Linked DNA regions of Homo sapiens: regions 2, 3, 4 and 5 are each linked to region 1. Evidence: fine-mapped expression QTL. A gene starts in region 1. Each other region holds a variant in brackets. All regions are shown on one strand. Distances are from middle to middle.

Region 1 (6,442 bases):
TTTTTCCAGCCAGCTTGAACTAAACAGAACAAACAAGTGTGTTCAAAAAAACAAATTGGTTTTGAATACTTACAATGGTTTTAAAAAGACAGTGGCAAAACTGCCCATGTCAGCAGTGGTTTATTTGGATCAAATTAACACTGGCGGTTTAAACATGCTAAAGTGTTTCTAAGAAGGTGTGGGCTCCTGGAAACAGATTTGCATATCTGCAAATAGGCAAGTTTCTGCAGAGACCAGAACATCTTAGGCATGTGTATTATCCCATTTTCACACTGCTGAAAAAGATATACCCAAGACTGGGAAATTTATAAAGAAAAAGAGGTTTAATGGACTCATAGTTCCACATGGCTGGGGAGGCCGCACAATCATGGCAGAAGGTGAAAGGCACGTCTTATATGGCGGCAGACAAGAGAGAATTGACAGCCAAGCAAAAGGGGTGTCCCCTTATAAAACCATCAGATTTCATGAGACTCATTCACTATCATGAGAACAGTATGGGGGAAATTGGCCCCATGATTCAATTATCTCCCACTGGGTCCCTCCTACAACACAGGGGAATTATGGGAGCTACAATTCAAGATGAGATTTGGGTGGGGACACAGCCAAACCATATCAGCATGTATTAGGTTGTATTTATGATATCGTATAAAGACGTAGCATACTATACATTCAATAAAAGTAGAGCTGGTTTTATAAATAGATATCAAATTTATGCTCTCAGCAGCCAGTAACCCAAGAAAATAAGCTCACAGAGGATGCCATCTTACCCCTCAGTACTGATTTGAGGTTGAGCTTGGCTTGGCGGTGCAGGTCCTCAACACAGGGGGGTCTTGTGGTGGGAAGGAACACATTCTCCTGCTGGTGCCACGGGGCAGTGTAGTGGACTGTCCATCGGCTTTCCTCATCTAGGTTGGAAACCGCTATAGAAAAAAAGATAGAATACATTCAGGTGTCAACTTCATTGGCTACGAGTTCATTACATCATGATGTGTTTCCATGTCTAACACATCCACGGGTAAGGGCCAGCAAGGGAGCAATGGAGCAAATCCTAAATTAGTTTTAATCTTAGATTCCAGGGGTCTCGCCCACAGTGTTTTACTTATAAAAGAAAAGCTGAAAGTGTCCACCCTCCAAACAATGTTTTCATAGAATCATTTGCTCAGTTAACTGCTTCCCAGCATTTTAGGTCCTCCCTTTACTCCAATGTTTGAAAACATCTGACAGAATTGATAGAGACCTCCAATTCCTACTTAACCCCCCTCGCACACACACAACAAATAGCAGTTACTCAACTGTATAATGCCATCGCAACAGTAAATGTTAGACTGTCCTGATAGAAATGAATTTCCTACCAGGAGGTTTATAACAAATATTCTCCCTCTACAGCATTATTTAAAGAGCATCACTGTTATAAACTCAATTACATTTTTAAAAAATTAAGCGTAAACATTCAATTTACATGTAAATGACATAGCTAATACATGTGGAGACCCATTTGTGTTACAAAATTCTCTCTGCATTTCTTGCTTTCATGAAACCCTTTTATATTAAACATTTTTAAAATTACAATGCAATTGACTCTTCCCAACACAATCCAGTTCAACTAAATTTTCCCAGCACAGAAGAGACCAAGACATTAGAGGACAAAATAACAGGTAAAATCCTGAGAGTAAGATAAATCTCTACAATAATTTTTCTTTAAATCCTCGGAGGCTTGAGACCTCTCTAGTTCATTTTTCCTGACAACACGAGCTAAGTTGGGGCATCAGTGGAGCCCAAAATGAGGCCGACAGCACCAAAACAAATTCATCAACAATGTTTTAATACTTTCTATATACCTGCCATGTAACCCAGGCATAAGAGAGACTGGAAAGGTACTGGAGAAAGTCCTTGTGCTGAGGCATTTGCTTGAGGTAGCAAGTCTAACCCCTGTAAAGCCAGCAGATACTTGAATTGTGAGTGAGGAGCAAGTCTTCCTGACTCTGATCTATGCTATAGAGTTCACACTGGGCGTATCCATGTCCCCAACATAACATGTACCTGGAAACTAGACCATAAAATGAATTCTCAAAGTAACATGAGAACACACGCATAAACTATTAAATCCATTTGAGCACATCTAAAATTCACTAAACATACTCTATAGCACAGTTATTAGGGCTACTCTAAAGATCAAATGAACCAATATACATAAAGTACTTAGCTCAAGAAATAACTCAGGTAAAACATGGTTGTGGCAGGAACAGTAAAAATTATTCTAACGAGGCCCCAAACTTTGAACTGTCACTGTCTCTTGTAAACCTGGGCCACATGCTAGCGCTCATCTCACATACCATCTTTTCTGCAGCTACTAAATTTTACAATCTTATGAATCTGAACAGGATAACTCATTTTCAAAAGGACCCCACCTTCTCCGTAAGTTGCTAAATGAGAAAATAAACATTGAGAACTAGATATCAAGTTAAAAACAGAAATGTCCATTGTGCTTTCTGCTTAGTATTTGACAAAAGCAGTATGTGAATTTGGCACCTAGTATTTCATGTAAACTCTTGTTGAGCAAATGTTTTGCATGGTGCATACAACTATCAATCTTAATACACAAAATCCACAAAGACCTGACTTAACCCTCATTTGTGTTTCAGAAGAATCTAGCATTGGGCCAAACTCACCATATGTCCCCCCAAAGTGTAGCCAGAGTTCATCACAGTGTTTTGTGCTGATGTCCATTTATTTTAAAGACTGAGTTACCATACTTCAGAGTTAGAAACTATTGAAAATGGAAACTTTTCCTATTCGACAATTTCAAATCAAATCCAAGTAATGGCATTCGTGTCTGCACCATCAATCGCACCATCGGCCCCACTGCACAGCTACCAACTGGCTCCTATGAAAAAGTCTCTTCCCCTCGTGTTCCTCACTCTCGCCAGGGCCACTTTTAATCTGTTCATCCAAAGGCAGCCTTTAGCAAGGAGCTGCAGAAAATCAGCCCACCGTGCTGCTCTTTGTAGCTTTCTCCAAAGCTCCTCTTACCAATGCCCCTACCCATGTTCATTTATCCAGTATAAGTCACTGGTCCAAACACTAAACTAAACTAAAATAAAATAAACCACCGACTATGTAAAAACAAAGCCAAGTAGTTATAAAAATTATTATTTTCAAGAGAATGAAGAAGCACCTACATTAAAGAAATGTAAGTCAATGGTAAGTACACAATAAAGCCACATCACAAAAGTTCTGTACCTTACAACAATCACTGATCAGTCTAGACAGTTTGTGCTCGAGCTCTTAAATACACAACAAAGAGTGCCAGGGAGTTTCAGGGGATTATCTCCACCAGAAATATGTGATACATTACACAGAGGCTCCCTTACCTCAGCTGCATATTTATCCAAAGAATCAAAAAATCATACACTTGATATCAAGGGAAACATAAATTAAGTACAAGAATTTCCCCCCTCTTCAAAGGACTTCTTTTGAAAAGCACAGAAGAAGTGAATTCACTTAAAACCCCAATCATAAATAAATAAGACATGCTAAGATCACATAATACTGTCCTAGAGTTACAAAAGTCTGAGGTATTTAAACAACCTGGTATAGAGTAGAGTTTAACTCATGCCTATTACGCTGTTTCACACTCTAATTTCTTCACACAAAAGAACGAAGGACCTAAAACACACACATGGACACACACACACACACACACACACAGACACACAGGGACATATACACATATGGAAACATATGCACACAATAGGTAGTAGAGAGAAAAGGAACTACTTACTTTTCTTCTTAAAAAGTTTAATTAAAGACTTAATCTTTGCATTAATGAAGACCACCATTTCCAGGGCACCTACATAGAGCTTAGAAATGTAAATCACATTAAAAGCTCAGCCCAGTAGGCAGGTGGCAAGCTTCGTCCTTCTGCTACAGATTCTAACTTTTTCTTCCCCCGGTCTCATATCCTTAGACATCTGCCCAGGCTGATGTAACTGAGGTTGAGTTTATTGTCAGGCAGTTACAAACCATTAACAGTCCTTGAACCTGAAAAACTCCTACTGAAACCTAATCTTTAAGGCTGAGAGCAGCCAGTGACATCGTGCGCTGAAAGAAAGAGAAAGCCAATCACGGTTCTTATTTGCATGACAGCCACATCAGGCTTTCTGCCTCAGTGCCCATTCATTCAGTTTTCTCTCCAACAGATCAGAAGTTCCTCCTCTCTGAGCCCACAAAAATAGTGCAGACTTTCCTCTACGGAAGTCAAGATGAAACAAATGTGTTCCCCATTTCATTAGGCCCCTATGAACACCCAGATCTTTTACAGGAGCTGCCAAGTCTGACAGCAATTCCAGTTAATTCAGGGTATATGGGATTTGAACTGATTTAGGGGGGAAAAAAACCAAACTATTGTTTCCCAACCACGCCCCAGGCTCTGCCTCCGATACCAAAGGAACTTGTACAAGCAGTAAAACTTTAGAATAGAATCTCCAAGGAGCTGCAAATGATGACTTGGTTGCATTTTTGTGCAAATTAGGATGCTCTGTCTTCTCACCCTTCTTTGCCAGTGATTGAGAATCAGCATTGTGTGTTCCAAAGCATGATCTTATTTGCATCTAGCTGCCACAACAATCAAGAAAAAAAAAAATCCACCAAAAAAAATACAACTTCCCCACTCCAAATGATAAATTAGATAAAGTACCCTAATCATTTTAATCTTTATTTTATATGTAATTGTCACTTAGGCTCCTGGTTTTCAGAATTCCATAATCGCCCTTCCCTCAATGTTGTCTCAAACAAACATTATCTGAGTTACTCTTTAACTTGAATCTACCATCCAGAGTGCTGGTTCTTTTGCCCATTGGCAATTAACCACAGAGAACTAGGGAAGCACAAGTAGAGACAGAGAAATCAGAAACAGAGTATAAGAAGGCACTGAAAAAACATATTCCAGGGGTAAAGGGATAGGAAAAAAGAGGAGAATATAGATCCGGAAATACTATGACAACGGAAAAAGGAAAAGAATCTTCCTCACATCTCAGCCCAGTTCCACTTCATGGCCAAACACTTTTGAAACAATTTAGACAACCTCTTATTTCATAGCTTTGGGCCAGACTTATAACTCAATGGAAAAATGTAATAATCCACTAATTCAAAACATTTAGTTTATAACAAAGGCTCTTAGTCAAAGAATAAAATTTATATAAGGGGCTCTGTCTAGGGAAAGCTTTGAAATGATTCCTTCTCAGGTCTTTTTATGCCCTTTATTTTTTCAACAACAACAAAACAAAAGAACACATAGGGGAAAGCTTTGAAATGATTCCTTCTCAGGTCTTTTTATGCCCTTTATTTTTTCAACAACAACAAAACAAAAGAACACATAGAAACGTTACCATCTTATCATACATATTATCACAGATTTCCAATTTGTGTTATTTCATTTTATATATAGCTTTATTTTAAAGTAATTAAATTGCCAGATGGCAAATGAGAAACGACTGAGCCTGTAAGTCAGATTATGTGGCTGCCTTAAATTAGCGGGCAAAGTTCCCCTTTGGAAAACAAATTTATCTGCAAGAGTGACCTCGCTCTGCTCATTGCATTAGACACAAGGAGAGTTGTGGGCAAAAACACTCATATGCACAATCCACAAGTGTTTGAGGTTAAGTGTCACCATGCAAATGTCCAGTGAAAACAGAAATTGTTCTTTCAAGAAACTCTGATTATGCTCAACCCTCCATAGCATGTAGCTTTCCATGTGCTCAACAATGGCATCTGAATATAGATTCGTTCATCAGAAAGATAAATACCAGGCACCGATGCTAACTGCTACTCTTTCATTTCATTGGGATACATCATTGGACAAAATAGGTGAGATCCCTGCCCTCATGGAGCTTAAATTATTTGACACTGAACTACAATTTTGTGGTATATTAGAAGGAGTTGAGTGCAACAGACAAAATAAAAAAGTTAAGCAACATAAAAGGGGGTTTGAGGGTGGCCAGGCTGCAGCATCGTAGGAGTCAGGGTGGTCCTCGTGAAAAGTCGAGATTTGAGCAAAACCTTGAAGGAGGCAATGGCAAGAAAACAAAACTGTGTAATGAATCTCACTGGCTCTCATTTTAAAGAGAGAGAGAGAGATTCCTCAGGCTGTGAGACACATTTCCATCCCCCAGGACTAGAGAAGTGCTCTTTCCTCTCAGAAAATGAACTGTAGGAAGAATCTTGCATGGGGTAATTTCCTTTCTCACTCAATATTAAGTGTGATATAAAGTGGCCGCAGTTGTTCCTCTGTATCCATTCCAGGATGCCCCTTGGATACAAAAATCCTTGGATGCTCCAGTCCCTGATATAAAATACTGTAGTATTTGCATGCAACCTATGCACATCTTCCCATATACTTTAAATCATCTCTACATTACTTATAGTACCTAATACAATGTAAATG
Region 2 (6,442 bases), 46 kb after region 1:
TATATGTATGCATCCTGTCCATATTAAAAGCAACATCAGGCCAGGCGTGGTGGCTCACGCCTGTGATCCCAACACTTTGGGAGGCTGAGGCGGCGAATTACTTGAGGTCAGGAGGTCGAGATCAGCCTGGCCAACATGGTGAAACCTCATCTCTAATAAAAATACAAAAATTAGCCGGACAAGGTGGTGTATGCCTGTAGTCCCAGCTACTCCGGAGGCTCAGGCAAGAGAATCACTTGAACCCAGGAGGCGGAGGTTGCAGTGAGCCAAGATCGCACTACTGCACTCCAGCCTGGGCAACAGAGCGAGACTCTGTCTCAAAAAAAATAAGAATAAAAGCAACATCATTTAAAAAATATTACCTCGTTTTTAAAACTCAACAGCAGAGAGTCTGCTTTAAAATTTTCAACATTGTGTAACAATCACACCAATGATTTCAAAAGTACATATTTTAGCATGGTTTACTTCTGTTATACTAATAAGGGGGACTTAGCAACAGAGTCCCCTTTGAAGAGAAGGAGGATAAGCAGGAGAATGTTGAAAGACTGAGTCATCCAACAGACTGAGCTATCTAATGCAACTGTTTAAATTTTTGGCTCACACTGAGTTGACTGCAGTGAACTAAGTTCAATTTTGTTTTTTGTTTTTCCCCTTCTCAGCGGGATAAAAGTTCATGAAAGAAGCCGAATCGATTAAAGGAAATAAAAAGGCAACATTTTCCTTTGCATGACTGATCATAATGGGTATGTACATTTTCAACTCTTCTACCTACACATACAAACTCATCTTAAATTTGCATTGCCATAGTTTCAAAGGCATCCTCAAAGCAGCTATGTTGGATATCATTCTTACAGTTTTCCATTAAACACACTTCCCATGCAGCTGCCCTCAGGCTATGTGATTTTACATGCGGTCCACTGAATTGGGTTGAATAGCGTCCTCCCAAAATCATGTCCGCTCACAACCCTGGAATATGACCTTATTTGGAAATATGGTCTTTGCAGATGTAATTAGTTAAGGTGAAGTGATATACTGGATTAAGGGTGGACCCTAAGTCCAATAAGTGGTGTCCTTTTAAGAAAAACATCTGACACAGAGACACAGAGAAACACACAGGAAGGAAGGCGGTAGGAAGAGGGGCAGAAACTCAAGTGATGCTACCGAAAGCCAAGAAATGCCTGGAGCCATCAGGAAGTGGAAGAGGCAAGGAAGAGTCTTTCCTGGAGCCTTCAGAGGGAGCACGGCCCTGCCAACTCCTTGATTTCAGACTTCTAGCCTCTAGAACTGTGAGAGAATACATTTCTGGATAAGCCACTCACTAAGCAGTAATTTGTTATGACAGCTCTGGGAAACTAATGCAGATTTGTCTACTAACCAGTGCCAGTAGGACAATACTTCACTACCAGTCCACAATTAGATTAGTACAGGAAATGAGATTAAATGTTTAAGAACTTTTATAGCTGTTTGACAATGTGGTGATATCACACAAGCACATGATTTTGTGTTTTACAAAACATCAGTCTGTAATGGTTTGGAAATTTCTTTTAAAAAGTCTTCACCGAAGTTAGAGAAGCACTGCAAAGATAATTAGTATTTATAAAGTTAAAGCTGATGTACCATAATTAAGAAATCTACATTCAGAACTATTTCAGAGAAGTGTAATTATGTTCCACGTAGCTTTAGTAGTAAAAACATTTTATTCTAATTTTTATTTATTCTTTAAACATTTTTTTCGAGACAGGGTCTCACTCTATTGCCCAGGCTAGAGTGCAGGGGCACAATCATGACTCACTGTAGCCTCGAACTCCTAGCCTCAAGCAATCCTCCTGCCTCAGCCTCCCAAGTAGCTGGGACTACAGTTCCATATCACCACATCTGGCTAACTTTTTAATTTTTTGTGGAGACAAGGTCTCCCTATGTTAGCCAGGCTGGTCCCGAACTCAGGGCCTCAAGTGATCCTCTCTCCGCGGCCTTCTAAAGCATTCGGATTATAGGCTTGAGACATGGCACCTGGCCTATTCTACGTCTTAGAATAATCTGTGAATGGTACACATGGTAGTTTGCTATTAATCATATTATTCGCTATTAATCATATTATTTGATTAGCCATAATTCACTTCCCAGACCATAATGGATCACTTGCTACACAGTGAAGGAACGTACCATGCCTTTGTTAGCCACAGAGACCTTAGCTGAACTTCGCAGAACATCTTCACAAAGACTGAGTGCTCAAATGTTGCACATACAAAATGCAGTTGGGAGAAGCTGATGTATCTGAGATACTTCAATAGCAAAGAGTGATTGTAACTATATAAGTTACGATAGTGACAATAATGAGAAAGATGGCATCCTTCTTCAAGGAAGGCCAAATTGACAAAAAGCTGAGCAGACCTGGCTTCAGAAAAGAAACAGTCTAAGTAGAGAAAAGGAAATCCTGCATCAATGTGGGAAGCGATCTGATTTAAATATTTTCTTTCAGCAATTACAAGAAACACACAGGAACATGATTTAAACCAAAGGAAGAGCAATCATGTTTCCTTTAAAATCAATGCTAATCACAACCACATATGCAATAGCCCCTAGGACCTTGGCTAGCCACAGACCAATGAATGAAAGCCACTTTTCCAAAGTAAGAACACAAAGCATCAACAAGTAGCTCTTACTATTCTTCTGCTTAATCTCACTCACCCTTATTTTATCATGGGCTTGCTTCATATGTAGGGCAAAGGACAACTTAAAAATCATTATTGTAAATCAACAAGCTATAAGTCACAGGAAGAAAGTAGAATGTCAACTGTTTGTCCTAGCTGCCGGGAGATCAGAGAGTAGGCTTTAAAAGGGTGCGATTGTGGATTCCTGATTAGAACACACACTTCAGCGTAAAAGCACTTAGTTGTCATCACATGCCATACGTTTGAGTTTTTAAAATTTTCTGAGTTACCACAGAAACTAAGAGTCCAAGAAAATGAGAGATTCTTTAATAAAATGAAATGGCTGTTATGGGAATAGGTGGAGAAAAATATGTTGAAGCTGCAGATGTCCTACCCAGTAACAATTCCACAACCGTATTCAATTAAAAATTGTAAACCTTAAGCTATCATTGGATTGTAATGATTTCAACTGCACTGTGGAAATTACACTAGGTAGCATGTACCTTCATCCAATAATACCACTGACTCTTCATACCTAAACATTTTGTAGAACAATTTTTGGAAGAAACAGTGTCATGAGAGCTCATAATGCCTTTCATCTAAAATTATTTTTCAGAAATACTTAAATTCATGTCAGCCCATGACTCCTTGGAAATCCACTGCAACTAGATACTCTCTGTAGTAAGAATTAATTGAATGCTTGAGGACAGAAAAATGTGATGTTCCTTTTTGTTCTTACCCCTTCAATTTCACCAAATTTGCACCTACTATATAAAGGAATATCCCAAACACCAAGTTCAATATTAAAGACTGGTAGGTTTTAAGATGTCAAAATAAGGTTAAAATTGCAAAGCCTGGGTCTACAGAATCCACGTCTATACCTCATGAACAGACTTTGAGGACAAAGGAGCAATCCACAAAGCAAATAAGCCAGGACCACTTTATTTCCAAAACTTGAAAAGATGTCAAGAATTTCCCATCAACAGAATGACATACACTGAAAGATATGAACAGAACAGTTCCAAGGAAATTCATCTCCCCCTCTACCCCCACCATTTCAACAATCACATAGACAAACACACTCTCACATGCCTACATTAATTACATTGTAATAAGAGTTGGAAGAAAAATAGAGTTGACGGAAAAAATAAATGCCTAAAGAGAGAAAATACTCCTTGACTAATCAGGGAATGACGACATATACTCATATAATCACCATCTTATAGTACTTAGGAAGTATTATAATCCATATGTGGCCAGAACAAGAAGTATGTTCTTTCTTTTCTTTTTTTTTTTTTTTTTTTTTTTTGAGACCGAGTTTCACTCTTGTTGCCCAGGCTGGAGTGCAGTGGCGCGATCTCGGCTCACTGCAACATCCAACTCCTGGGTTCAAGCAATTCTTCTGACTCAGCCTCCCAAGTCGCTGGGATTA[C/T]AGGCACCCGCCACCACGCCCAGCCTAGAAGTATGTTCTATAGTCAAATTAATTTCACTCCTAAGTTCACAGAGTAAAGCTTAAAGCAATAGAATCCTTTACCCTTTCTACTCCTTCTAACCCTTACATGAACAACTCCTTACATGAAAATTTCTCTACTACTGCTGTAAACTATTCCTATATTTATTGAGTTGATTTTAAAAACCTTCTTTTAAACTTTTAGCTACTTTTGTCTATAACAAAACACACACAAAACACATTCAAACACAGAAATATCCTTTCTGTCTAGAAGAGAATTCCATCTCCCCAGCAGGAGGTCTTTCTTCCTGTTTGCAACAAAAAAGAACAATGACTTTTTCACTTTCATACTTACAAAACTCCCTCAAACTTTGATTTTTACTGGAATCAGCTCTGTGATTTAGACTCTGATGCTAAATGACAATCTTCCCCAAGTAGAACTTTGCCACCCAAATGGACACGAAGTCCCCTCACCTTTCAGACAGAACATTCTGCAGCAGTTCCATGGAGGGGCTGTGCTCTGTGGTCTGATGAAGCCTGCAGTGCTAGGCACAGCTGTCTCCCAGCCCACCTCCTCAGCGCTCACTGCCAGAGAGCGGGGCGGCCAGCCAGCGCCTGTTACTCCAGGAAGCCACTGCCCAATCCCCAGCCTGCTGGGCTGTGCTGCTGACACCTCCCTATCTCTCCTGGGTTATTTCACACCATGGAATCAGCCTGCAATCATCTTGAAAGGGGAAAGGAGCCAGGGGTTAGCAGTCACCGTTCATATAGTCCAGTGCAGATCAGCCCAAGGGCGAGCCCATTTGTTTGTGCTTCTCTCTCAGCATTTTCCACCACAGCGGATGCAGCTCTTCACGTGATCAACAACACAAAAAAGAAATCACTCAATTCAGTTTAACCTTTTGCTATTAATTATGACTTACTATTCACTGACTTCATTATTCCTTTTCTGTTCACATGCTCCCCTTTTTTTTCTAATATAGAACACACCATATACTGGTACATAATTAACACTGCACATTATAATAGGAAACTTTGCACTCTGTTGTCTGAGTCTACGTAAATGAGTGAATATATGTGAAATGCTCTTTCAGTCCCAGACAAATCATAAGCACAAAGTAAGTGCTATCATTACTACTACATACTGCTATTTAAAAACGGGGCGGACATGGTGGCTCACACCTATAATCCCAGAACTTTGGGAGACCAAGGTGGGAATATCACTTGAGCCCAGGAGTTTGAGACCAGCCTCGGCAACACAGTGAGACCCCATCTCTACAAAAAAAAAAAAAAAAAAAAAAAAAAAAAAAACTAGCTGGGCATGGTGGCATGCACCTGTGGTCCCAGCTACTTGGGAGGCTGAGGAGGGAGGATTGTTTGAGACCAAGAGGTCGAGACTGCATTGGGCCATGATCACACCACTGCACTCCAGCCCAGGCAACAGAGTGAGACCTTGTCTCAAAACAAAAAACAAACAAACAGAAAACAAGAAAACCACTTGAGTATTAGGATAAAAATGTGAAGCATGTTACACTTCTATGGCAATGTCATTTTTTCAAATGAGGAAACAAATGCAGCATTAGAGTACGAGAATTTCTAACTGTACTGTGGCTGTGATCAGATCAGTACATTTCTTCCCCTCCACTGGAAAGCTAAATTCACTCTGGCAAGTTCAAGGTTACTTGACTGTGGACTCTCAAACACAGGTGGAAAGTGGCAGAAGGAATCTTATGACAGACCTGATGAGAAACAGTCCACAAATACTGCCTCAGGAGCACCCTGCTTGAAAAGTACCATCTGAACCCTAAGTGGCCCCGTGGTCCTTCCCCACAGAGACGTGAGTCTCCTGGCTCAGGAAGTGGCCATTGTTCACAGGACCCGTTGCTGTTTGCAGGTCTTCCTTTTGACTCCACAGGATGCAGGAAACTGACTCACAGAACCAATCTATCTATCTGTCTGTGTCCTGGGGTGCTCACTGCCACACAGTAAGGATGCTCTATGTTCTTTTGGTTTTCAACATACGGTGCAGCATATCCCAGCTGGGTTTCTGCTCCCTGTCACCATGAATCACCAATAGCACCTGGGTAATAAATATGTTGTCTACCATAAGGAAGTCACTGTACTAGTTTCTATGATCACAAGAATATATAAGAGGTCTCTAGCCAGAAGCTAGTTAGGATTAAAAAAAAAAAAAACTGCATGGGGAATGATGAACAGTGATATTAACGCTTCTTCTTCTTTTTTTTTCCCCTGAGAGGGTCTCACTCTGTTGCCCAGGCTGGAGGGCAGTGGTGTGATCTCAGCTCACTGCAAGCTCCGTCTCCCAGGTTCTCGCCATTCT
Region 3 (6,442 bases), 100 kb after region 1:
AATGAAAGCTTTTTCATCAACTGCATGAAAAAGCACTTAATAAATCCAGAAACAGTCTAAAAGGATTATGTGGACAAGTCAAAATGTGATTTTGATGGACTAAGTGGATTGCTGAGACACATCATGACATTTAAAACCAAGTGCAGAAACTGAACTGTATTTCATTTGTTAAAACGCTTAAGATTATAAAGGAGTGATACATTTGGCAAGGTAGCCAAGGTTCTTGAAAGAATCAGCAGCGCCGCAAAAGGACATCGAGGAGCTCAATGCAGCTAATTTAAGCAGACCTGCTCCTGAGAGGTGAACCAAGCTTGGTAAGTTTTTTAAGTTCACGTCCGTTTCTCACCCACATTCAATTGGCGGGGGTGGGGGGGAAGTTCTGAAAGCTTCCATGAGATAATCCTTTAAAATAGTCTCTAGAGGCAGCGGCAGCAGCAAATTATTCATTCCTACCTTGCGTGAGTTAAGCGTGACAGAAAAACTCTCTCAAGCAGAGTTTGAAGTGCTCAGGGTTCCCGCCTTGCAATCAGAAGTTAAGACCTACCAGGAGATTGAGATCAGCCTGGCCCACGTGGCAAAACCCTGTCTCTACCAAAAAATATAAGAAATTAGCCAGGTGTGGTGGCGGATGTCTGTAATCCCAGATACTCAGGAGGCTGAGGCAGGAGAATCGCTTGAACCTGGGAGGCAGAGGCTGCAGTGAGCCAAGATCACATCACGGCACTCCAGCCTGGGCGACAGAGTGAGATTCTGTCTCAAAAAGAAAAACAAAAAGTTAAGACCTGCAAACAGCGAATAGAATACAAAAGCCTAATTCAGTGCTGGCATATGAAGCATCAATCCATAAAAATGGCTGGTTAGTTTCCGAAGTTTTGATCTGGTGTCATATAGCCTAAAGAACAAAGAATTTACAGGAAATGATTTTAGGAGCCTGGAAATTTTAATTCCATCTCAGATACTGTTATTTCCTTTTAATAGTAAAATCTACGTAACTATTGATTTGACAAGTTTTTCATTTGGCTGCCTGTGCTATTAATCATCACGGAACTTTAGTCCAAAATTCAAATCAAACATCACCATACACGCCTCACTTCCAGGTCCCGGGTACATGTTGTTCGTTTCTGGTTATTCTAGTGTAGACTCCTTGCTTACTTTGGAATTTTGGCAGGAATTGTTCACCATTTCTGAAAAATCATATCACTGACCACCTAACCGCTTGTAGTGTTTGAGTCACTAGCTTTTCATCATGGTAATTCCACACACATGTAAGCATCCAACGGTTTCATTCCATCTTCCAGTAAGTACAGTTTTGTGTGAGCAATGAATATGAAAAGGTAAAAATGGCCTTCTTTAATTTCTCCTTACATTGCAGGTAGGACATTATATTGACTTTTTAAGCATGCATGAATAGATGTATTATATTGGCTATGTGATACTCATTTCAGGGTAGAAAAAAGATAATAAAAATATTTCTTATGACTGAGAAGCACTGACCTACAGGTTATGCCAGCACTTCCCCAGTGACGATGATAATGTCATCAGTGACCTTGATGATGATTTCCAGCAGAGAAGGCGGTGCAGGTGAAACTGTCCCCCACCTTAAAAATCAGCTTTTGGCAGGGCACAGTGGCTCATGCTTATAATCCCAGCACTCTCGGAGGCCGAGGCAGGAGGATCATAGGAGCCAGGAGTTCAGGACCAGCTCAGGCAACATCTCTACAAATAATTGTAGAGATACCCCATCTCTACAAATAATAATTTTTTAAAAAATTAGGCCAGGCGTGGTGGCTCACGCCTGTAATCCCAACAATTTGGGAGGCCGAGGTAGATGGATCACTTGAGGCCAAGAGTTCAAGACCCGTCAGGCCAACATGGTGAAACCCTGTCTCTACAAAAATACAAAAATTGGCCGGGCATGGTGGTGGTCACCTGTAGTCCCAACTACTTGGAAGGCTAAGGCAGGAGAATCGCTTGAGCCTGGGAGGCGGCAGTTGCAGTGAGTCAAGATTGCGCCACTGCACTCCAGCCTGGGTGGCAGAGCAAGACTCCATCTTGGAAAAAAAAAAAAATAGCCAGATGTGGTGGTGCACACCTGTAGCCCCAGCTACTCTGGAGGCTGAGGTCAGAAGATGGCTTGAGCCCAGAAGTTTGAGGCTGCAGTGAGCCATGAACATGCCACTGCACTCTAGCAGCCTGGACAACAAAGCAAGACTTCATCTGGAAGAAAAAAAAAAAAAAAAAAAAGCAGCATTTTTCTTTCTTCTAAGAACTACTAAAAATATATGTGAACATAGACCCTTTCTCCACAATGCTCATAGATTTGGATTTGCTGACCAGACTAAAACAACGTCCAGCGTTTCCTCATCTCTTTGTGGTAGGGTGGGTGAAGCTAAACAATCCCACTAATACTGAATGCTGCCTTCATTCAAAGACGACTGCATCCTCACACTCTTAAGTACAATAATGAAAATGAAATTAAAGTAAATGGACTTACATGTATTTCTCTTTAATTCAGGTTCACCCATATGTTTCTAAACATTAGACTGCAAAAAGTGCAAGAGTCCAAGGTCAGAGCTTAGGGCCTGGAGATCCATCAGATTCCCTGTTTAATCATCAGCAAGTCACCTACTCTCTGTGTGTCCAAGTCATCTAGCTGTAAAATTTGGATCCTATTTGTCTGTTACCTCTTGACCCAGGCACAGAGTATAACCTAAGAAAACATTCTGAGCTACCTAATTGTTTTGGATTCTATTACATATTTTTTTCAAAACAAATTCTACATAATTTAGTGTTTTATGGTAACCAGTACAATATAAAAAAATGTAAGGCCAGGCGCAGTGGCTCATGCCTGTAATCCCAGCACTTTGGGAGGCCAAGGTGGGTGGATCACCTGAGGTCAAGAGTTCGAGACCAGCCTGGCCAATATGGTGAAAGCCCATCTCTACTAAAAGTACAGAAATTAGCTGGGTGTGGTGGCAGGTGCCTGTAATTCCAGCTACTTGGGAGGCTGAGGCAGGAGAATCACCTGAATGCAGGAGACTGAGGCTGCAGTGAGCCGAGACTGCACCATTGCACTCCAGCCTGGGGAACACAGCAAGTCTCCGTCTCAAAAAAAAACAGAAAGATTTAGAACTCTTTAAGGTCTTTTTCTCCTTATATAACA[T/C]ATGCAGAAATAATGGTGCTATTGAAATTAGAATGGACCAAGTGTATAACCCAGATACACAAGAAACTTCCAGTTTCTCATTCAGTGCTTGAGATACCTTAAGATGATCAAATCACAAATGCTCAGTTAAGTCCAATCAGATCTCAAGGCAAGATCTCAGGCAGGGTCAGCTTAGTACCTATAGAAGGCATCAGAAAGTAACTTTCCAATGTCACCTAAATGCCTTCCCTGTTGGTGCTGAGAGATTTCAGGATACAAGGAAGAATGAAGTACCTTTAAAATGAAGCAGGCCGGGCATGGTGGCTCATGACATGACTGTAATCCCAGCACTTTGAGAGGCCGAGGCGGGTGGATCACCTGAGGTCAGGAGTTCGAGACCAGCCTGGCCAACATGGTGAAACCCCATCTCTACTAAAAAAATACAAAAACTAGCTGGGCATGTTGGCATGCATCTGTAGCTCCAGCTACTAGGGAGGCTGAGGCAGAAGAATTGCTTGAATCCAGGAGGCAGAGGTTGCAGTGAACCAAGATTGCACCACTGCACGCCAGCCTGGGCAACAGAGCAAGACTCCATCTCAAAAAAAAAATATTAATTAATTAATTAAAATGAAGCAACACAGAGGTATTTTAAGGTCCACTCAGTGCTTTCTTTTCTGTTCTTTTATTTTCTTTTTCTTTTCTTTTCGAGACCAGTTCTCACTCTATTGCCCAGGCTGGAGTGCAGTAGCACAATGATGGCTCATGGCAGCCTTGAACTCCTGACCTCAAGGGATCCTCCTGCCTTAGCCTCCTAAGTAGTTGGGACTATAGGCATGAGCCTGGCAACCTTCCTTCAATTTGAACTAGCAATGCCTACTGCAAAAATTTAAGTGTTTATCAGCACTGTAAAGGGTCATTAAACTTTAGGTTACTGAGTGAAAAAACCAAAGAACATTCTTTCCAAATGCTTTTAAACTTTTATTTTACCTTTTACTTTGTAACCAAAAGAGAACATTGCTCAAAAAAATCAATTATAATCCTTGCTTCCCTGGGTTTAAGCCATTTGTTTTTCATGAAATTACTATCAATTTAAATGAAAAATAATATTAATACCTTTTAAATTCAGAGCTATACTTAAAATTTTCTTAATGTCGTTGCTAAACCAACACTTAGATCTTACTATCCCTATTAGAGCTTATAGTCTGGCAATTATAGGGATCAAACACTTTAATTTGTGAGAGAAGAAACTCATGTTTTAAAATAACCCTAACCTCCAATATTTCAACATGTTCTTTAGAAAATTCATCCCACAAAAATGGCCACTTCATTCTGTAACATGATATATCTACAAAAATCACTGTGTGTCAGAATACAATAACCACTTGGAAAGGGCTGCCTGCATTTCTAAATCATGTGTAAATCATTTGAAAGTATTTTCTCATAATGATTATGAAAGCATTAAATTCAATAGAAAACAAAGGATTCCATTCAAATGTATGTCCCTTCATTTACTTTTTAAGGTACTAAATGTATAAAATAGAATCTGGATTAACTGGAAAGAAATGAACATAAAATCTGGTTCCACTATAAATCTGAATCACTTATCCCAGAACTTTCTTCTAAAGTAAAACTCACCAGGATTGTTGGGAATCTTTTGATTATACTCCCTGGCCTGACTTTATTTAAATAACTCTTTAATTCTGACATAGCAACCATATTCATTGTTATTTTTTAAATCTGTTATGTTCTCCAGTCCCAAGCTAAACCAACACTTAGATCATTCAGGAAATGTAAAACACTGCTGGCAATCTGTTAGAAAACCCTTTAACCTTTTGTTACACATTCAGCACCATCCCTAGACACTTGTGTGGCTATTGCTCAATTGCACCTGTTATGCAGAAAACTCATACAAGAGGAGTACTATTTTAAAAAATTTACTCTTAGGTGAATCTAAAATGATTAATACTGATTATAAGAGTTTTTCTTGCCCGGGCACGGTGGCTCATGCCTGCAATCCCAGCACTCTCGGAGGCCGAGGCGGGCGGATCACAAGGTCAAGAGATCAAGACCATCCTGGCCAACATGGTGAAACCCTGTCTCTACTAAAAAAGCAAAAGTTGGCTGGGTGTAGTGGCACGCACATGTAGTCCCAGCTACTCGGGAGGCTGAGGCAGAAGAATCGCTTGAACCCGGGAGGTGGAGGTTGCAGTGAACCGAGATCACGCCACTGGATTCCAGCCTGGCGACAGAGCGAGACTCCATCTCAAAAAAGAAAAAAAAAGTTTTTCTTAAATCCAGCAACAGTATCACAAAAACTCAAGAATTTATTTAATAACAAAAACAAAAAACTAAGGCTAAAGAATAAGAAAATGTACACACTTTAACTTTTTCATTGAAAGATCTATCAGACTGCAAACCTATAAAGCCGATAAGTTTATCATTATTTCACAGGACTACAATGAGATAGCAGCATACAGAAAAATGGTAACTACTAATTAAGCTGGGATTTTTAAGATGTGAAGATGAAATATCAGGCTTATGTTTTTAAGCTTGTTATTTTGATATCACTATCAATTTACTAAAAGTTGTGTCAAATTTATAGAATAATTTGCAGGAGAATTGATATCTTTACTATGGTGTGTCTTCCAATCCATGAAATGATATGTCTCTCCATGTGTTCACGTCTTTGATTTTATCCATCAGCATTTTGTAATTTTCAGCATACAGATTTTGTATGTTTCATTAGATTTATACCTAAGTATTTCCTTTCTTATGTGCAAATACGGTTATTGTTTTCTGTTTTTGTTTTTGTTTTGAGACAGAGTCTCACTCTGTCTTCAGGCTGGAGTGTAGTGGTACTATCTCAGCTCACTGCAACCTCAATCTCCCAGGTTCAAGTTATTCTCCTGCCTCAGCCTCCGGAGTAGCTGGAATTACATGCTCCTGCCACCACGCCCAGCTAATTTTTGTATTTTTAGTAGAGAAGGGGTTTCACCATGTTGGCCAAGCTGCTCTCGAACTCCTGACCTCTGACGATCCTGCCCATCTCAACTTCCCAAAGTGCTGGGACTACAGGCATGAGCCACCATGCCCAGCCGGTTATTGTATTTTTAATTTCAGTTTCCATGGAAATGCAAATTTTGTTAGATTTACAAATGTTTGTTTCATCTAATTTTTTTTCCCAACAATATGGGGCATTTATCATTTCCCATGGATAAAGAGAATCCACTTGGAACTGAATATAGCATGCCTTTTGTTCTTTTCATCATTGGTAGGTGTAAGTGTTTAAAATTACATTCT
Region 4 (6,442 bases), 72 kb before region 1:
CCCAGCATTTAGCAAAAAAAAAAAAAAAAAAAAAAAATCTTCCCCGGGAAGCACTTTCAGAAGTTTAAGCTTCTACTTGTTCTTAAGCCACAGGGCAAGTGCCAGGTGAGTCCTAAATAACCGTTCACTCACACTGCAGGGCTGGCAACCCCGGGGCCCACAGCACAGAAGCAGAGTGGGCTCCCCGGGTGAGCCAGGGAAGGGCGCCTAGCAGGCTTCCTAGAGTGCTGCATTGCTCGTCTCCCCCCGTGTCACCTGGGAGAGTTACGTTCTTGGCCCTAACTCTCCTCGCTCAGAGAACCGCCACACTGTGGGGAGGGCTCTCTGCCCTCTGCACTGGCTGTCCCATCCACAGGGCCGGGGGCCTGGGGCTGCAGGGAGGCGGCAGGCCCCTCCCCACAGAGCAGGCCGCCCTCGTCCATCTCCTCCCTCGCCAGTCCGTCCAGGGAACATCCCTCCGCAGCGCCCAGAGCCCCGCGGGCTATGCTGTCCACAGGCTCCACGGCTTCCCCTTCTCCCTCCGAGATGACGGTCATGGGGCTGCTCTGGATCCGGTTCCGCATGCTGTACCTGCTGCTGGCGGCAGAAGGCGGCGTTCGGCTGCGGCCGTACCTGGGGCCGGAAAAGGACAGACTCCGAGGCATCAAGCCTTCGTTCTTGGCCCACTCCTCCTGCGCCCTTCTGTTCTTGCTTGGGGAGCAGCTTGACGGGCTCTCGGGGGCATCTGGGGAAGGCTCTGACCTCGACCTCTGGAATCTAGGGTCTGTGTTCTTGAGCATCTCTGCTGCAGACATGCGGGCGCTGGTGTCTGAACGACTGCCCTTTTTCAGCAGCAGAGCTTTGAAGTTGTCACTGCTGGTGCTGCTCTTTCGGATGCTTCTCTGAATCGACCCCACTTGCTTTGGAGAGGCCAGGCTTGGGGCAGCGCCGGTGGGTGTCACGGGCGGGGAGGGAGAATGGTTTCGGGAGTGGTCATCATCTGAATCTCTACGGCCGAGGACTTTCCTTTTGGATCTGAGATTTAATAACATTAAGAAAAAGGTTAATTCCCACGGGACCACAGGCTGTCAGCCACAACCACTCTGCTCTTATCGCATCTTCAGGTCACCATCTACTTAAGATTCACTTTCAAAAAATTTATTTTTGACTGGGCACAGTGGCTCACACCTGTAATCCCAGCATTTTGGGAGGCCACGGTGGGAGGATCACTTGAGCTTAGGAGTTCGAGACCAGCCTGGGCAACACAGTAAGACCTTATCTCTATTCAAAAAAAAAGAAAAAGTAATAAATGCATAATTTATTTTATTTTTTTGAGACTCACTCTGTCGCTCAGGCTGGAGTGCAATAGCGCAATCTCAGCTCATTGCAACCTCTGCCTCCCGGATTCAAGCGATTCTCCCTGCCTCAGCCTCCCAAGTAGCTGGGATTACAGGCACCTGCCACCATGCCCAGCCCAGCTAATTTTTGTATTTTTAGTAGAGACGGGGTTTTGCCATGTTGCCCAGGCTGGTCTCAAACTCCTGACCTCAGGTGATCTGCCTGCCTCGGCCTCCCAAAGTGCTGGGATTATAGGCGTGAGCCACTGTGCCTGGCAAATAATTTATTTTTAACTTTGGAAAATTTCAAACACCCACACAAAAGAGAACAGCTCACTGCAAGACCGCATGAGCCCATAACTCACCTATGATAATCATTAATTACGGTCACCCTTCTTTTGTCTCCACCCTCCCTATTTGAAACAAATCTTAGACACTATTAACTTACTTTGGACAGGACCAAAAGTTTTAATAATGGCCAGTTTTCCTTGATCTCTCCTAGACGGGCTGATCCGGAGTGAATTTCACATGCTGACCCTCCTTTCTTTCTATGCTTCCTTTTCTTGTTCCATGCCAGAATATCCCCTGTACTAAGATGTACCCCACTCCAGGTCCTAGAACAACTCCTCAGCTTCACATTCTCAGTTATTCTAGAAGTTGCCGTCAGACCAGTCTTCCTCAGCTCTTCCAGGACCATGTGCCAACTTCTAAAATCCAGCCTTCCAGAAAACAAAGGCGAACCCTCCATGCCAGACCCTGCTTCATGATCGACTCAGCAAACCTTGCACTGATCAAGAAAATGTGAGGGGTGGGGTGGGGTGGGGAAGACGAAGGGGCAATCAAAGAAAGCTGAAGGTTTCCTGTAGGTATTTCTTGTCCTGAGTCTCTGAGAACCTCACTGTTCAATGTGCTTTCCATTGCCAGTGACAAAGAGATGATAAAGCCAGTGAGCCAAGTGGCCCCTTGCTGGTCTCTTCATGACAACAACTCAGTCTGTGTCTCTTAGCTAAGTGCAGGAGAACTTGCTTTAAGGAAACTCAACACAGTTAATAGAATAAAGACGTGGGTATATCTCTTTTCCTGCTATAAAATTGTAGAATATGCAGCAGGGAAAGGTTGAGAGTATGATATCTGTACACACAGATTAAGAGTTGAAACCAGACTCTTCCCACCTCTCGCTGTGTGACCTGGGACAAATTACCCATGCATGCCATGCCTCCTCACTTATAAGATACCAACCTCACAGGTTTGTGAAGATTAAGTGAAATAAAGAAGCTAGCTACATAACTCCCACTGCTAAAGCTTCCTTGTTCTGTCACCTTGGACAAGTTAACATTTCTGACTGTGTATTTTTCCTATCACCAAAAGGGGAATAACAGTATATAGGTCACAGTTTGTCAGTACTCATGAATGCAGTGATAGCCATAATTGGTCAGGCATAGAGCAGGTGCTTAACAAACCTTTGAATGTCACATAGAAAATGGATTTAGTTTTTACGTGGCTTACACAGCAAGACAGAGGGCAGCATGGGCCCATGCTGGCTGCCCTGGGCTTGGTGTTCCTGGCGTCATCTCCATTCTTCTGGTCAAAAAGATGCCACTAAAGCAGAGGCTGGGAAATGGTAAGGACCCAATACAGGGTCTGAAGGGTGGCCAGAGTGGACAGGGCACCAGACTCTTTGGGACTGCAGAACATGGCCTACCATACAGGTTTCATGGTCCCACTCAGTAGTTAACAAGAGCAGTCTGCCCTGATAAGAGTTAGGACCGGCTGACAAAACTACAGACATCCTAACATCTCGAAACTGTAGAGCTAGAAAAGACGTTAGAAATGGTCTAGTCCAACCACTTTGGGTTTCAGAAAAGGTAACTGAGAAAAGGTAACTTGTTAGTATGACAACTAGGACTTGAGCTTATAGCACATGGCCTCACCACTTACATGGTCTACTCCCCAAAGCAGCTCTGCTCATTTCATTCTTTTAGGTATTGGCTGGTGACTTAATTTGTAATTTAGATTTTAAACGGTGAGAGTATGCTGAGATCCATTAAACAAGTCACAACTAAACTTGAGTAAAACTATGACCTTTAATTGTAGACATAGAATTAAGAAAGAAGATGGGGTGACCAGCCTGAGCAACATGGTGAAACCATGTCTGTACTACAAATACGAAAATTAGCCGGGCATGGTGGCACA[C/T]GCCTATAATCCCAGCTACTTGGGATGCTGAGGCAGGAGAATCATTCGAATCTGGGAGGCAGAGGTTGCAGTGATCCAAGATCGCGCCACTGCACTCCAGCCTGGGTGACAGAGTGAGTGAGACTCTGTATCAAAAAGAAAAAAAAAAAAAGGAAGAAAGATGGGATTTTATGAAAGCACTGTCATCTCTCAAGAGCAGGTGCCCACTAAAATAATTAAATCTAAATGTACAAATTCTTTGCATATACATACACAACACACACACACGAATATGTATTTTTAATGAAGAGAGCTATAAAAAGTGCTTAAACAGTTAACACTGATTTTAAAACTAATTACTTCAATAAATATAAAAACTTCACACCTCAACTGGTGTTCTACATTTTCCATCTGGCTTTAAATCTGAAGCGAATTAATTTGCATTATAAAATTTGGAAGCTGTGTTTCAACTTAGATATTCTTTATTTTAAATTATGAGCTTAAGCGCTGAAGGACATAAAAATAAAGCCCTAAAAAAGCACAGACAGTAGATGGATTTTTACTATGTCTGCTAATTTATTCTCAACGCTACAACAGAAATTAGCATATGTCCTCACTCTCTCTCTGCAATCCATTCCTAAGGCCTATTTGGCTTTGACTTCTCTCATACGTGCACTGAGTAACACCAACTGACCGATTTCTACATCTGCAGTCGATGTAACGTCCTAGTAAGAGAAACAACACATTTTTCGATGCCTTAAGAAGGTTGCCAAAATATAGAAGAGGCCTTTGGCATATTTTTGGGAAAAAATATGCAGTAATTTGGACCCACAACAGTTGGGTTTCCTCACTGGAACCAAGTATCGAGTACACAGAACAACCAGGCTACGCAAATCTTCTCTGTGGATGGCTATTATAAATAGACAGATATGCCTGTATATTTAGCAACCCAGTGCATTCCATACTAAATGAAATACTCTGAGTCTTGGAAGAATCTTCTAATGGTTAAATACCAGTTGGTTTCATTTAATTCAGGAAATATTTATTGAGTGCTTCTTATGTGTCTAGCGTGGTTAAGAGTTAGAAACATCTATGGGAACTTCTAGAATTGCCACTGAAGTTTCAAAGGATGCATCATTTATCATTTCTCTGTTTTGAGAAATAATTGGACAACCAGCTACCTTTTCACTTCTAATGAGACTGAAGAAACCAGTCCATGTTAAAAGGGGCAGTCTTTAGGATCTATTATACCAACACTAGAGGAGCGACGTAAAGAGCGTAATTCTTGACAAGAACATTAATTCACCGGCTTCGTTCCCCCCACACCAAGTTAGATGTTAATGTGTTGCATGAAGAGTTTCAGGTAGGTACAGCACTATGTTTTTCATCTTATGCAATAGTCTTTTCAGGGAGAGTCCAAGAATTGGGAAAGCAGTGCTGACATAAGATCATTCACACACAGAATCAAATGATTCTACAGGATGCTTTGTTTCAGGAGGTTAAAAAAAAAGAAAGGATCTTCATTCAGGGCAAAATAAGGCCTTGGCAGCATAAGGACATTCATTAGAGTTACCTGGAAATACCGTGGTAGAGAAGTCTAGAAGGAAGCAAAAGGTTTATACAGCATTACGGCTTAACGTAGTTGCACATATACAGTCATCAGCTTTTACGATGACACTGTGTGGGAGTAGTCAGCTGTTTCCAATCAGAAAAGTGATGCAGTAAGTAAAACTTCAGTGCTAAATCATATTTACTCTTAAAGGTGACCACATATAAAAAGTGTAACAGTTCAGGCCATTACTTTGAAAATTTTACCCTTTTTGTTTGTTTTTAAACCCAACGATTTCTGATGCCAGTAGATGGCACTAGTGGTATATTAACAAGCATAAGTCATTCTTTTGCTCCCGCTTAAAGGGCCGTACTCTTTTATAGAAACACTTAAGCAGCCAAAGAAATTGCTCTGTATAACTGTGGTTTTTCTGTAAAATGAAAAAAATTAGAATAAACTAAAACATCTTTAGGAAGAGAGTCCCATGGAGCTAGTCTGTGCATCCTAAGTCCACAGAACATAGCATTCCTCCTCCTGACTGCACTGTCAGTCACTTTAATCCGACTCTTGCTAATATACTCTGTCTTATGACTGCCACACTGCGCTCCTTGCCAGGAAGAGCAGCGCCTACCAGAACGTATCACATTGAGCCACTGTCCCCAATGTCATAAAAATCAGTGAGACAAAGTAAAACAGAAATTGGAGCCAGAGGAAATAAAACTGTAGAAACCCACTAAAAAATCAACAGTAAAGTTAAGGAGTTATGATTGGGTGACAGAAGAAACCTCAAGGAAGAAAAGTAAATTGAGGTGCTGCTTGGAAAGAAGGAATTACACAGTAGATTAAAGTCAGAGGAAGGAGTTTGAAATACCTGTGAATAGCTGCAAAAAGGTCTTCTGTGGTCCTGGGTCGACTGGGGGTCATTACCTCATCATTCCCGTCTTCCTTGAGGAAGTCACAGGCCTCTGAGGATGAACCGGCTGCGTTGGTCTCCGGCACCCCAGCTACAGAAGAGCAGGCAGGCATACAAGACGCACAAGTGACTGGAATTTCAGTCCTCAGCCAAGCTTCTAAATATGCTGCTTCCCTGCCATTCCCGACAATGTGAGAACCACAGGGAGATGCCGTGGGTCTGTAGTTTGATAGTTTACAAAGAAGGGAGGAAATGACACTAGCCTGAGAGCCAGAGCTCATTCTTTGTTAAAGTATGGAACGCCCATGGCATCTCTCTTAAATTTTGTTGCAACGTTTCTTTGCGCGGCTCTTCGGAAGGGAGGTGTTACCCATTGCTATTTAATACCCAGCCTGCTGCAGATCATCTCCATCCCCCTATTTTCTGCCATGCCTTTAGGTCTAGATTTTAAAAATAATAACAAAATGCAAAGTTGGTAACTTAATCTGTGTT
Region 5 (6,442 bases), 38 kb after region 1:
TATGATCAATTGCCCATTCATGGGACTATGCATTGGAGTGTTTTTCTAAAACATTGAAAACCCAAGAGCCAGGAAAGTGCTTAGATAAAGGGTGTGTTTTTCCTTGGTGAGTAAATCCTTAATCCTTTTTAGTCAAGAGAAGTGTAGCCACTTCAGAGTGATGCTTGAGAAGGGCCAACAGGCAATGGGCCATTTTCCAGACGGTGACCTGCCACTTCTAAGACCAAGAAGCTACATGGGATGCTTATCTTCCTTCCAGTCACCACGAAGCTGAGACTCATTTGTTCTGAATGTTTAAATTTCTAGAAACACATTAACTTTTCTCCTCCTCTATGACCAGCTTCCACATGCTACAGGCCATTAATGATTGAAACTGTTTCATCAGATTTTTTGGTTGAGTTGCTACAAAAAATGAAACTCAGAATTAAAAATCTTTCTTGCTCTGCTAATTAATAGCCTGCGTATTTTCAGTCCCATTGAAAGTAGTACAATCTACTTTTATATTTTAAGCTATTCTCAAACAAGTCCATTTGTTTTCATAGAGAGTGATGGTTAAAGTCTTTTTACCCAAACTAGATTAAATATTAATATTTCATTCCTTTAATCAGCAATTATCTACTGGAATTCTTCTGGATCAAGTTAATGAACTTAGCCCTCAAGGAGCTTACAATCTAGTCGTCAAAGCAAAGGACCCTTGGTACATGACGACCCCACAAAAAAAGAGGGTTCAGGTCCCATAGAACGTGCAAATCCCACTCAGTGAGTTGGGTTGGATCCTACTCTCCATTTTAATAATGCTATGAAAGAAAAGGAGCCCTTTGAAAGGGTAAAATACCCTGTATTTACCAGCAGAGCCTTTTTCATAGAATTCATCACACATCAACCTCAGCACAACAGATATATGCATACAAATAAAAACTAACCTGCTCCAACATTTAAGTTAGTTCTCTAACTTCTACAGGCTCCCTGCTGTTTATTTCTAACTTAATCCCTATCAATAAAGCCATGGAAATCAGTTTTCCAAAATTCCAACAGAAACTCTATCAAACTTGGTCAATAAAGCCCAAAGGTAAATCTCTGTGGCTGCATTTAGTACACAGATTGCCACTTTTAATGATAAAATGAGATGGGGTGGAACGATCCTCACTTGCATTAAGGAAAAGATGGAGGGGTCTCATTAAAGACCATACCTTCTTGGAGCATCAAACAAGAACACGACTCAGCTGGGACTGTAGTTCGGCAGGGAAACCTTTTCCTTTTCTTCCAGACTAAAGGTTTGATGCAGCTGCAAGTTCTGTAGCTTAGAAAACAGACTTTCTCCTCCTAGGTTTATTTCAGGCCTGTGATTGATATTTCAAAAATAAAGAGAAATTGCCAAGACGAGCTTTTACTCCGAGTGAAATGAAGCTTTAAAGCAAAGGACTGGCACGATATCGCTGGTCTTAAAAGATCTACTCTGGCTACTGGGTTGAAAGTAGGCTATAAAGGGAAGCTATTATGATAATCCAGGTGAAATTCAGGCCAAGCAGGTAGCAGTTTAGATGGTAAGAGGTAGTCAGATAATGGGGAAAAAAATTAATATAGTCAATAGAATTTTCTGCCAAATTGAATGTAGGAATAAGAAAAAAAAGTAGTTGTTGGCTGGGCGCAGTGGCTCACACCTATAATTCCAGCACTATGGGAGATAAAGGCGGGAGGATTGCCTGAGCCCAGGAGTTCGAGACCAGTCTCGGCAACACAGTAAAACCCCACCTCGACAAAAATAAAAAAAATTAGCCAGGTATGATGGTGCATGTCTGTAGTCCCAGCTATTCAAGAAGCTGAGGTGAGAAGATTACTTGAGCCTAAGAGGTCAAGGCTGCAGTGAGCCATAATTGCACCACTGCACTCCAGACTGGGCAACAGAACAAGAAAACCCTGTCTCCCCTCCCCGACACCCCCTTACCAAAAAAAGAAGTCATAAATGACTTCAAGGTTTTTGGGATAAGCAACTGGAAGGGTGGATTTGCCACGAAATGGGGAAGTCTGCAGTGGGATAGATAGGGGTGGGGGACAGGAATTTTGATATGTTCATGAGGTCAGTTAGACATCCAGGTGAAAATGTGGCAGCTAGATATTCATATCTGCAGTTCAGTACACCAAATACCAGACTGCCTTACTGTAAAACAGCAAAAGACTCATGACATTGACTAGGAATTATCGTAAACTGAGAATTTTCATTGTGTGGTGAGGATCTGCTCTGGCAGAGAGAGCCTGTTCTCTCACTTCCCTACAGGGCATCCATACAGACTGATCTAATTTTAGACATGACACTGAGCTAGTTGCTGGGGGGCCAACGTCAAGCAAGAGACAAAGGAGGGTGGCTACTCACACACAGAGGTTGAAGGTAGCTTTCCAAAATTAAAAAGAGGGCAAGGGAAAATTAGAGTAAAGGAAATCTAGTCAAACATAGTCCAAAACAGCAGTCTGGGAGAAACCTGTGGTATGGCATGTGTTAAAGGAATCTCATTTATTTT[G/A]GGGGCTCCAGTTTTTCCCCAGCTCATAGACACTTTATCTTTTGCAGATAACACACCAACAATGGATCCATTCTATGGTTTCACAAAGGTGAGTGAGGACTGGGGAGCGACTAAGACAAACTCATTTTCAGCCAAGTGTGTTATCGTAAGTCAAATAACATACAAATAAGGATTTATGATATTTGCCATACCAACCAACATTGACTTTCTGTGGCAAGCAGAAACGACACTGGATGTTTTAGCATTAAAAGTTCTCACTGGACACGGAAAAGCAGCCATCTCTATAGGAGCAGTCTTGTAAACCCAAACCTAAAAGTGATGGCAAACATCAAACTAATGTTTTGTATTTAAATCATGCTTACAGACATCACAAATTTAATCATCTGCATTCAATCTTTTCAGCATTTATAGATTCCGTGGTTTTGGAGAGGGACATATGTCATCTTTTTTTTTTTTTTTTTTTTTTTTTTTTTCACTTTAAGCTCTGGGATACATGTGCAGAACGTGCAGGTTTGTTACGTAGGTATACATGTGCCATGGTGGGTTGCTGCACCTATCTACCCGTCATCTAGGTTTTAAGCCCTGCATGCATTAGGGATTTGTCCTAATGCTCTCCCTCCTCTTTCCCCCAACTCCAGACATATGTCATCTTCTGAGTATGCTACTTGTTTTAAACTTCCATCGTAATTTACTGACTGACAATTCAGGTGGACAGCTCTTACACTCCCTGGCCTCTTCTCTCTAAGATGAAAAATAGGCTGCCAATTACTGACAGAAGAAGAAATACAACGAGAAGAGAAATAACCCAATAATTAAGGGGAGCTCATTCCCAATTCCTCAGTACAGCAGTCAACCTAAAATAAGGACATTTCCACCTATATAAGGATAAAACCATCCACCCATAGATTTCTCTCTTCCTGATGTGGAAAGAGTTTGTAAAAATAAAACAATTTTATGAAAGGCACCATCTTGAGCAGTTCAAATCTTGTTTTAAATTTTTATCAAGTATTTGTTCTGCCAGGAAACATTTCCAAAAAGGAAAGGTTTTGTCTCAATTGCTGTGGCAGCAAACACTTCCGTTGGAGCTGTTAGAGCGGTATCAGGATACTCTCACTGGCTTACATAGCTTTCAAAATATTTGTGTTGCTACCACGCTCCTTTGCCAATATATGTGACTTGTAATACTTTTTTATTCATCTGGATGTATTTATACAACTGTGTAGGTCCAGAAAACTTTTTAAAAGTTGGCGTAAATATGCTGTGATGAAAACTGAGAAATACATCTGCCTTTCTCACTATGTAGAAATACTACATTTGCAAATTAGGGTACAAATCAGTCTTCACTTTCAAAGACCAAATTAAGCCCTTAGAGAGGTCAAATTTAAATAACATCACTATATATTACAGAGAAAATACCAGCATCTTATGTAAGCTTTACTTAATCCTCAATATTTTATTAGGCAGATCCATTCTCAGAGCTAAGGAGATCTTTACTCAAGGGATAAGATGATATGATTAACGGATAGAGTTGGGATTTCTTGAATATTCTTTACAAACCTGTGTTAATTATTTTTGTTATTTGGGTCATGATTAGCAGGGAAACCCTTTACAAAGTCTCTGGCTTTGCTTTGTTCCCAAAGTCAATCTTGGAGAAAGAACCGCCAAAAGCTGGCACAAGCAGTAGCACCTTTACAGTGGGCAGGAAAACAACCAGAAGTCTTGGGGCTGCAGAGATCCAGGCCGGCGAGAAGTCCAGAGCATCAGACAGGAAGAGTTTCCTGGGGGTAGGAACAGTGACTGGCACATGGTAAGTGCTCATCAACACGCAATGAAATAACACACCCCAAATTCTATCAAAATATTTTGGTCAGAGTTGATGAACTTCAGAGGTATTTCAAAATGTCGACAAATCTTGGATACCCTTTGACATATAAATTAGCCACCTTGGGACAATATTGATCTCTTTTGCATAAAATACTGGGTATTCTGTTACAGCAAAACTTTTCCAGGAAAAAAGAAGGGACTTGAGCTTCCTTTGTCCTCTTAAAATTAGGAAAGGGTCTAGATAAAGCAAAAGTGCAAATCTGTAGGAGATGGCTAAGGAAGGAGAGATAGAGTACCACCACTGGGGGCTAGGTGTGTTCATATACTTCATTTTCTTTTGCCATGCCATCCCACATAGCTAACACCAAGGCATTTTCTGAGGCCCCTTTCTCATTTGCTCTGTTTGGAATTAGAAAAGTTGCTACTCTCAGTGTCTGGTATAACCCAGTTTCCCCACGTGATCTTCTACCAAGTCAAGCATCCTCTGGGCATCTGCCAGGCTCGTCAGCCAGGCTCCTGTGGTCCTTTGCCTTCCCTTTCCTAAGAGACCACACATTAAGTCACTGTTCATCCTCCCCTGAACCTGCTCCCAATGTTCGCGCCCTCGAGAGAGCAGAGGCGTCTGTCCCAACTTTTATTCTGAAAGTTCCAGCAACAATGAACCTTGCACAGTTCACTCAGTGAAACAAAATAATGAAGAACATAGATGGCCTCTTGTGGTCAGCAAAGCCGAGATTTTCTCTTTTGCTCTCAAATGCTGTCTTGCAAAATTTCACAAGTACAAACATATGTTATCATCTGACCTTTTGAAAACTATTCTGTGTATATATAAATTCACTTAAAGTGTACTACAACTTGTGGCTCCTAAAGCTCACTTTATGCTATTTATATCTTTTTGTTATAAGAAGACATTCCAAAGAAAAAGTGGTGATGAGCACTCACATTTCTGTTATCATGCACCCCCTCCCCCAAGTTAAACCCACAGTCAAGTCACTCAGGCCTTTTGTTTCAATGGATCTCAGGGTTAACCACATTTTGACAGTAACAACAACAAAAAAAGTTCTAAATGTAATCTAAGTTAACAAAGACTGATAAATGTCACATAATCACCAGATAGAAGATGAACACTGCTGACATTAAATCAAATAGTTTGTCATTCTGTTGGCTGTCAAATTAGGATCTCTTAATTTTAAATGCAATTGCTACATACGATTTTATAAAATAATTAATGTTCCTAATTTAAGACTACCCATCTTCCACCCCGCATCCCCAATACCATATCCTGCCAAACTGTTTAATCATGCAAAATCTATTAATTGCTTAAAGACCCTCAGGTTGTTTTCAGCAGTATTTTCTTCTGATGTTTAACACAGAAAAATACATACCCCTGCATACATCTGTACCTGGTTAATGGTGGTGACATGATGTCCTGCCTTTATCACACGGGTCCATCTGCCTTGCCTATTAACTATCACCTTTTCTAATGCATGTGTAGACTACTGATCACATCCTTGTAACTAGAAGGAGTTCAATATGGCTTAGGTGTAATACTGCTCCCCCAATGAGCCATCACAGAGGAGGACAGCTAAGGTGAGGTAGGGGGCCTAAAAAAGACAAACATGAAAATCAGCAAATAAAGGAAACCAGAATAGGTAGAAATGGAACAGGAGATATTAAAATGAAGAGTTTAACTGAAATCTTAGCTAATGCTTTCAGTAATTCAAGTCATTTGATTCAGTTCCACAAAATTACCCAGAGCATGAATCCTTGCACAGAGCATGCTCCAGAAACAAGCAGACCCCAAGTTCTCCTCGTTTTAGGCGGCAAAACTCTGTTAACTGCTCTTTCAGTCCATAGGGTAGCATCTCAATTTATAGTATTACACAACCTATTTAGCATGGTAATCTGGCTTCTACTGCAACAGATTTAAGAAACAGATTTTGACTACTCATGGAAGGAAAAAAAGAGAACTAAAAAGCATGATAACGTTTTCAAGGGAAAGACAAAAGAAATAAAGGGCTAGCCAGCTTTGTTTCATTTATTAAATTCCAAGGGCTTTCCCCACCAGTTTGAAAAATGCATGTTATTACCACTGTGTTTAT

Alleles and levels. Positions count from the first base shown, and alleles are read on the strand shown. Sizes are in standard deviations (SD) of each study's normalised expression. Not every link is listed here.
For the expression in monocytes of the gene that starts at base 4,043 in region 1, allele C in region 3 goes with a lower level than allele T (large effect, 1.0 SD a copy in Schmiedel 2018).

Evidence for each region. PIP is the estimated chance that this variant, and not a neighbour inherited with it, causes the effect. A credible set is the group of variants that fine-mapping cannot tell apart.
Region 2: its variant is the best candidate, but not a certain one, in a credible set for the expression of NHSL1 in esophagus muscle (GTEx, PIP 0.88).
Region 3: its variant is the best candidate, but not a certain one, in a credible set for the expression of NHSL1 in monocytes (Schmiedel 2018, PIP 0.54).
Region 4: its variant is the best candidate, but not a certain one, in a credible set for the expression of NHSL1 in thyroid (GTEx, PIP 0.80).
Region 5: its variant is the best candidate, but not a certain one, in a credible set for the expression of NHSL1 in pancreas (GTEx, PIP 0.53).

The regions. Positions count from the first base shown.
Region 1 is chr6:138,495,452-138,501,893 of GRCh38, forward strand. NHSL1 (NHS like 1) reads right to left here and starts at 4,043. Exons shown (of 8, transcript NM_001144060.2): 1 at 3,782-4,043; 2 at 768-920. The coding sequence starts at 3,839.
Region 2 is chr6:138,541,048-138,547,489 of GRCh38, forward strand. It overlaps a transcript of NHSL1 not described here. Among named protein-coding and RNA genes, the nearest start is that of NHSL1, 45 kb to the left of the region's middle. The variant C/T (reference allele first, on the strand shown) is at 4,084.
Region 3 is chr6:138,596,404-138,602,845 of GRCh38, forward strand. It overlaps a transcript of NHSL1 not described here. Among named protein-coding and RNA genes, the nearest start is that of NHSL1-AS1, 92 kb to the right of the region's middle. The variant T/C (reference allele first, on the strand shown) is at 3,164.
Region 4 is chr6:138,423,803-138,430,244 of GRCh38, forward strand. NHSL1 (NHS like 1) reads right to left here. Exons shown (of 8, transcript NM_001144060.2): 7 at 5,909-6,041; 8 at 1-1,014. The coding sequence ends at 279. Among named protein-coding and RNA genes, the nearest start is that of MIR3145, 8.3 kb to the right of the region's middle. RefSeq lists an enhancer at 6,382-6,442. The variant C/T (reference allele first, on the strand shown) is at 3,510.
Region 5 is chr6:138,533,643-138,540,084 of GRCh38, forward strand. It overlaps a transcript of NHSL1 not described here. Among named protein-coding and RNA genes, the nearest start is that of NHSL1, 37 kb to the left of the region's middle. RefSeq lists an enhancer at 4,335-4,504. The variant G/A (reference allele first, on the strand shown) is at 2,517.